Homo sapiens: one gene and its partner. The protein of the gene in region 2 interacts with the protein of the main gene of each other region in a pairwise test. Each region holds a gene or a part of one and is shown on either strand. Other genes may lie near its edges.

The links.
Region 1: the proteins of KLF15 (region 2) and TCF21 interact in a two-hybrid assay, tested with the Homo sapiens proteins (one large-scale study listed by BioGRID and IntAct).

The regions. Positions count from the first base shown.
Region 1 is NC_000006.12:133,887,478-133,891,386, reverse strand, and holds the start of TCF21 (transcription factor 21), read right to left. Parts: upstream 2,275-3,909; 5' UTR 1,990-2,274; coding exon 1,540-1,989; intron 1-1,539. UniProt on the Homo sapiens protein: Involved in epithelial-mesenchymal interactions in kidney and lung morphogenesis that include epithelial differentiation and branching morphogenesis. May play a role in the specification or differentiation of one or more subsets of epicardial cell types.
Region 2 is NC_000003.12:126,350,600-126,354,408, reverse strand, and holds part of KLF15 (Krueppel-like factor 15), read left to right. Parts: intron 1-1,461; coding exon of another isoform or gene 1,462-1,486; coding exon 1,487-2,568; intron 2,569-3,809. UniProt on the Homo sapiens protein: Transcriptional regulator that binds to the GA element of the CLCNKA promoter. Binds to the KCNIP2 promoter and regulates KCNIP2 circadian expression in the heart. Is a repressor of CCN2 expression, involved in the control of cardiac fibrosis.

The DNA of each region.
Region 1 (3,909 bases), on a different chromosome or scaffold from region 2:
TGTGGCACTGCCTGGAGGCAGACGCTTTGGCAGTCTGAGCCGGGAAGCCCAGAACGACCTTGTGCCTACTGGGCACCGAGTTCGGGGCGAAGCGCCCTCCTGGCCTCCTTCTGAGGCGGTGGTCGGGTTTCAGGGCCCTGTCGCTTTCATCGCCTTTCATCACCATCTATTTCCCTAGTCCGACTTTCGTTTCTTCCATCGCAAACACCGGCTTTGACTACAGCTTCTAGATTAATCACCACCTCTTAAGGAAAAAAAAATGCTATACTACATTGACTTTTAATTTAAGATCGTCTTCATGCTGGACTGAGAAAGTATGCTTTCTCTTCCTTTCTCCGGGCTGTTTTATAATAAAGCTCATTTAAGTTTCTTATTCAAAGATGAAGAGAGTAGCAGTTGTAAATATTCGAGGCAACACTTTCATTTTAGGTGGAGATTTTAAAAAGCTATTTACTCATTGGGGGGGAAAAACCCCAAACTTTCAATTGGAGAGAAAACATTTTTCATGGTAAAATGTGGGTTTGCATCTTCTTCTCCAGCAATTCCAGAAACCAATTCGGTGAGAAGACAATTCAGACCCCTCTCACTACTGCTCTAGTGCTAGCTGATAAGACTTGCCTTTTAAAAGGAAAAATCTCTCATTCTTATCATATACAAACAGAGATCCTAGTAAGTTGTTGTTATTGTTTTTCTTTAGATCTTAGAAGTTTTAAAATAAAATCAAATGAAAAAAATTAAGATATATTTCTTAAACAGTAAAATACATTTGAGAAAAAAGTAGACTCAATGATTATCAGTTTTTTGTGTTAAAAAATTAGGCTCAATGGGCATTACTTTTTAAGATAAAAGGTAACATTTCTTAAATCTTGGGTGAGAGTGACCTATTTTAGTATTTATTACACTCATACTAGTGAGGATTTACTGATTTTGCTGATCATTACTAGAACTTCTGGGATTTAAAAATATTAATCCACTTATAGGAGAAGCACAGAATATTTAAGCGGTTAAGGGCTTACGTGGACAATTTGGGGGGCATAGATGTGTCCTTATCCAATGGTCCTAAATATGCTTGTGAAAGAAACGGAGTTGGGTGTTTTTATTTACAAGGAAAGGAAAATCAAGTTCCACTCTCTGCTAAAAGAAGAAAAAAGGATTAACAAAATGCCTGTCCGCTCGCAGCGTCTTGTCAGTGTTCTCAGTTCCGCAGCAGCCACTGCACCCCAGGGAGGATGGCGATGGAGCGGGAGCGGGGGATCCCTCCTCTGTGCCAGCTCAACACACTTGCAAACTTTTAATTGGGCTGCCACGTCAAACCCTCGCATAAATCACTCCCGCTCCGGGGGCTGGTAGGGCAGAGAGCGAGGGCCGTGTCTAGACCGCCCGCCTCCGGTCCCTGGAGGCTCTAGGCCCGCGGTGGTCGAGATGTGTAAGTCACCGCCGCGCCCACACCCCCACTCCCAGCCCCGCGCGCACTCGCGCCCACCGCAGGCGGGAGTGCGGGCGCGCCTGGACTGCAGCTGCAGCCCCGGGAGCACTCACCAGGTTGACCGGGTGAATGTACCCGTTCTCGTATTTGTCGTTAGCCAGGATCTGCCTCAAGTGGGCGATGTAGCTGGACGCCAGCCTGAGCGTGTCCAGCTTGGAGAGCTTGGTGTCGGGGGGCACCCAGGGCAGGGTGGTCTTGAGTCTGGAGAAGGCCTTGCTCAGCACTCGCATGCGGGCCCGCTCTCGCGCGTTGGCGGCGTTGCGCTGGACCTGCTTCCCCTCCTGGCTGACCCCGCTCAGGGGGCTCTTCTTGGTGGGCGCCTTCCTCCTCTTGCCCAGGCCGCCGCGGCCCTTCTGGGGAGACCCATTCTCGCAGTTGGAGCTCTCCTCGGTGCTCTCGTTGGAAGTCACAAATTCCTTGTTCGAATCCATTTTCAACCCGTCACATTCCAACATCTCCACCTCTTGAAGGTCCTCCACATCGCTGAGGGAGCCGGTGGACATGTTTGGGGGAGTGGACGAGGGAGAGAGAGAGAGAGAGACAGAGAGACAGAGAAAGCGAGGAAGAGGGTGAGAGAGAGACAGAGAGACCCTGAAACCAAGAGGCCTCCCGAGTGTGGCGCAGCCACCTCCTGCTGGGAGCTGGAGTTGGGGTCTGGTTGGGTCTCACAACCCTTTCCCCTTCGCAGAGTTGTGAGAAGGAACCCCGAGGACTTCTGCAGCAGAGGAACCGGCTCTCTGTTTCCCCACTCCCAGAGTCGTGGCCGTAGAGGAGGGTGAGCGAGCGCTGAGGAATTTGGTGGACACTAGGAATTTATCTGGGGAATAGAGGGGCGGATCCTTGCAGCCCAGGGAGGGGCCTGCCAGGCCCCAGCAAAGCGCTTAGACCCCTTTCACAACCGGAGGGAAACTCAATGCACAGACCCTGATTTGCAACTTGTAATGTAAATCAACTCAACTGCATCATGTACTTACCAGCCACCTTCTCCCAACTGTGGCCGGGGCCGAGAAGCAGCATGTTCTGTCCATCTGTAAAAGGCCTTCTTTCTCTCTTAAGACGTCACAACTGGTTGTTACTGAGAACTTTAGAAAAACGACTAGATCGTTTGGCTCTTTCTGGGCCTTCCACCTACACTCCATGCCCTCTCTCCTCCCAAGAAAACACGAATTAAAATACAGGGAGTATCAACCGCATCCTGCCAACACCTCATAAGACTCCAAGGCTTTACCGAGATCTTCCACCTTCCCCGGGATAAATGAAGACAAGTGCTTCCTAGAATCTTTATGGTGATGGAAAAGTAAGTATAAAACATTTCACCTACACCTGGTCATTTTCAAGACATCAAAGGACTGCCTACGTGTACACAAACATACTTGATTTGCACACTCAAACCCAACCACACACAGCTTAGTGGGAGTGGGTAGGGAATGAGAGGGCAGTATGAGTGTGTGGAAAACATTATGTTAGTTGATCATCTTTTCCTAATAAATGGAAACTTTCCCCTCGGTTTTTTTTTCTTTTCTAGAAATGCATTTAATATTGCCTTGAGAGTCTTTGTTGCTCTCAGACATCACCTTGCCTGGCACTTTTTGTGATGCACCGTCCCTTTCAATGCTGCTGTCTTTGTCTTCTTCCAGCCTGTTAGGTGCCAGTGTTCCTCACATGAAGCTGACATTACACAACACAAAGCAAGACTATCCTTTTGAGAAAGGTTCTTTTCCATCTTTAACCCCAGCTCGAACCACCTTTCCTAGAGAATAAGAAAGTCTCCTGGGAAGTAGGTAGAAAAAGCACAGGGAAACAGAACCTAGGGATTGGATGAAATTGGTGCAATGAAACCAGGGAGACTGAAGGCATAAATCTCTCTTACAATTTCTTTGCCAGGTTTTCTTCCCTTGCAGGTAGGCATTGAAGTTGAGGGGCTGGAGCAAAATGTAAGAGTGGTTTCTGAGTGGTTGGCTTAGGGTCTGAAGGCTTCTCCTACATTAAGATATCATATCTCTAATCCTAGGCTCAGCTGGGAATTCACTAACCTCTAACGTTTTGTTTTGCTAGCAGGGTCTTGTTTGCTTTCCCCCTATGCTGTAAACTAAACAGGTTGTCAGCAAATCAGTCTTTATTAATGAATTAGCGACCCCTCTTCCATAATATCTTCGCTGAGGATCCAAAATTTGTTAATCACCAGTGTAGAGATTTATGAGCTCTCTTATTTTCTGTTGTTTGTGCAGGTGGAGATTTAAATGACCACATCCACCCTAAGATTTATTGTGAGAATGATTGATGTTATAAACCAGGAAAAGGACTCTTCCCACAGCAGGGATGACAGAAATATCAAGTTGAAGTTGCCTTTGTCTTCACATACGAATGACCCAGTACTACAACACAGAAAGTATAATAATTTAATCTGAGGTTCAAGACAGCAG
Region 2 (3,809 bases):
TGGCCATTGGGCAGTGCCGGGTGCCAGGCCCTGAAGGGGTCCTGGAGACAGAGGGGCTGGGTGTAGAGGTGATGCTGGGCAGCAGAGAACCTCTGACTTTGGTGCAGAGCATTCCCCTTCCCCAAGCTTGATAAACACCCAGCCTGCCCTGGTCACTGAGCAGGGACAAAGGTTCACAGAGGTGGCCCCGTCACAGCTGGACACTATTGACTCTCCTTGGCACCAGACCTAGCATGTCCTTGGCTTCAGAGGATGCAGCTTTCCCTTCTCCTCTCTATCAAAGTTCTCTGAGCCCCTGCTGGGCACCAGCGGCCAGTCCAGGCACTGGGGACGCAGCAGAGACATGGAGTGCACTGTCTCAGGGGGAGACAGGCATTAGCTGAACCTTCGCAAGGCGGTGAGTGTCCCAGATGGAGAGAGCAATGGCAGAGAGTGCAGGGGACTCCACTTCCTTATTGGTCAGGATGGGCTGGGGGGGTGGTTGTCTCCTTTCCCACTAGATGGGTGTGAAGTCCAAGGCAGTTAGGCACATGCGGGTGCTCTGGGACCCCAGTGGTCTGCTTCCACTCCACGGATTATCACCAGAGGGGCAGGGCCTTGGCCACCAGGATGCTCAAGCATCAGGGTGCAGGTGAGAGGGTTGCGTTCAAGCCTGTGCCACTCACAGGGCAGTCAAGGCTCAGAGGGGTTTGAGGACTGGAGAGTGGAGGAGCTTTAGGTGGGGAAACAGCTGCGCAGGCAGGCACTTTTTGGTCTTTGACTGTTTTGCCTACATGCTACACTTGCCCAGTTAAAATGCAGGCGGCCTAGTTAAATTTGAATCTCAGGTGAAATAATTTTTAAATGTAAGTGTGTCCTATCCAATATTGGGAACATACTTATATTAAAAATAGTTTATTTTTTAAATCTGAAATTCGAATGTAACTGTTGGCTTGTATTTTTATTTGCGTAATCTGGCAACCCTCTGGAAGCCTCAGCAACATGAGGGTCAGAGGGCAAATGGCTGTTCTACCCCCATTCTGTGACTCAACAGGCGTGAAGCTGAGGTCAGGAGTCCTCAGATGTACAGTGACTCCTATGATGTTGACGGTGGGCTGATTCAGGGCTTTGGCCCTCCTGGGGTCCAGAGAGCCTCCTCGCGCATGCCCTTCTCTCATACTCACCCATACTCAGTTGTTCACAGACATATGTGCTATTTTCCAGGATAATTCTGGAAAATCTGTTTGAAACCAGAAGTGCCCCTGGTTATGCAATGGGCTTGGAGAGGTCTCTTTTGCAAACAGGTGGTGCAATTTCAGAAAACACTCTTGCAGGCACAGCTCTCCTGGGGGATGGAAGCAGGATCCAGGCGTTTGGCAATAGGAGGCTGTGGGCAGGCAGCTGAGGGTGGGGTCAGAGGCCTGCGAGGTGGCAGGTGAGCACTGTCCTTCTGACCAGGCCTCCTGTGTTCCTTTCCTGCAGCCGCCACCGGCACGGCCAGGCCAGCATGGTGGACCACTTACTTCCAGTGGACGAGAACTTCTCGTCGCCAAAATGCCCAGTTGGGTATCTGGGTGATAGGCTGGTTGGCCGGCGGGCATATCACATGCTGCCCTCACCCGTCTCTGAAGATGACAGCGATGCCTCCAGCCCCTGCTCCTGTTCCAGTCCCGACTCTCAAGCCCTCTGCTCCTGCTATGGTGGAGGCCTGGGCACCGAGAGCCAGGACAGCATCTTGGACTTCCTATTGTCCCAGGCCACGCTGGGCAGTGGCGGGGGCAGCGGCAGTAGCATTGGGGCCAGCAGTGGCCCCGTGGCCTGGGGGCCCTGGCGAAGGGCAGCGGCCCCTGTGAAGGGGGAGCATTTCTGCTTGCCCGAGTTTCCTTTGGGTGATCCTGATGACGTCCCACGGCCCTTCCAGCCTACCCTGGAGGAGATTGAAGAGTTTCTGGAGGAGAACATGGAGCCTGGAGTCAAGGAGGTCCCTGAGGGCAACAGCAAGGACTTGGATGCCTGCAGCCAGCTCTCAGCTGGGCCACACAAGAGCCACCTCCATCCTGGGTCCAGCGGGAGAGAGCGCTGTTCCCCTCCACCAGGTGGTGCCAGTGCAGGAGGTGCCCAGGGCCCAGGTGGGGGCCCCACGCCTGATGGCCCCATCCCAGTGTTGCTGCAGATCCAGCCCGTGCCTGTGAAGCAGGAATCGGGCACAGGGCCTGCCTCCCCTGGGCAAGCCCCAGAGAATGTCAAGGTTGCCCAGCTCCTGGTCAACATCCAGGGGCAGACCTTCGCACTCGTGCCCCAGGTGGTACCCTCCTCCAACTTGAACCTGCCCTCCAAGTTTGTGCGCATTGCCCCTGTGCCCATTGCCGCCAAGCCTGTTGGATCGGGACCCCTGGGGCCTGGCCCTGCCGGTCTCCTCATGGGCCAGAAGTTCCCCAAGAACCCAGCCGCAGAACTCATCAAAATGCACAAATGTACTTTCCCTGGCTGCAGCAAGATGTACACCAAAAGCAGCCACCTCAAGGCCCACCTGCGCCGGCACACGGGTGAGAAGCCCTTCGCCTGCACCTGGCCAGGCTGCGGCTGGAGGTCAGTATAGCGAGTGACAGGCCTGGGCAGTGAGCACAGCCACTCATGTCTGCTTACTTGGGTGTGCAGCAGGGCCATTTTCCACCATTAACAGAAGGTAGATGAGGGAGGGGAGGGAGGGGCAGGCGGGTGCAGGCCCAGAGCTGGCACAGTTGCCTGGAGGCTTCCTTGGTCCTCCTGGTTCCTGAAGCCGGAAGCCAACTGGTGTCCAGTTTCCTGATGGCCAGGTAAGGCTTCACTGGCCTGTGCTGCCAGCTGGGTCTCCCCATCCAGTCTGACAAGGGTGGGGATTGAGGGGCTGGCGAGGAAGGATGAGTGCGGTCTAGGGGCCAGGCAGCGGCTCCCTTTGGGCCCACAGCCCCACAGGGTAAGTACCACCATCACTCCCAACTTACATCACAGGACACTAGGGCTCCGACTGGCCAGGTACTTGCCCAAGGTCACTCTGCTTTGTGAATGGGATTTGAACCCAGAGGCCGGATTCGAGAGGTCACATCCTGAAAATGCTGCTTCCCCAACCAGTGGGACTAGCTTCATTCACAGATGTCTCTGGACACATGGGCTGGGCCTCGCCTATGCTTCCTCCCTGGGGACGTGGAAGCATGTTTGGGAGGCTGCAAAGGCCAACCCAGAGGGAGGCTAGGCCAGCTGGTGGTGCTGTCACAGGTGGCAGAACCCAGGCTGTCTGGTCTGCATGGCAGTGGGGAAATCAGGCCTCAAATGGTAACTGGTAGTCTCCCAACCAGGGAGCACCCTTCCCTGAGCACCGGGTGCTGCTCAACCTCCTTGGGAGTGGCTGTCCACCTTTTCCTGAAATGTAGGCTGCTTGCGAAGAGCTCATGTGCTCCGGGGTGCCAGAGCCAGCCCTCTGCAGTTCCTGATGCCCATCCCAAAGGAATCTCTGGCCTGCCTGGGGGGCGCTGTGTGCTGTTGGCACATTCCAAATCTTTGCTGCTGTGGCTGCTGCTACGTGTGTGAGACGGGGCACACTCATCTGTATCCCTGGGGGTGTATACAGGCCTGGGCCTCGCCAGCAGGTGTGTGGCTGTGTGTGTGCACACCCACATGTGTATGCATCTTGCTTTCTTTGTGTCTGTCTGTGCCGTGTGACCATATGTGTTTGCACACATACATGTCTTAGGTGTTTGTGCACCATGTGTGGCTGCCTGTGTGTGCATGTGTTATGTGTGGGTGCAACACCCGGGGAGCAGTTTGCAGCTTTTGTTTTCTTGACCATACTC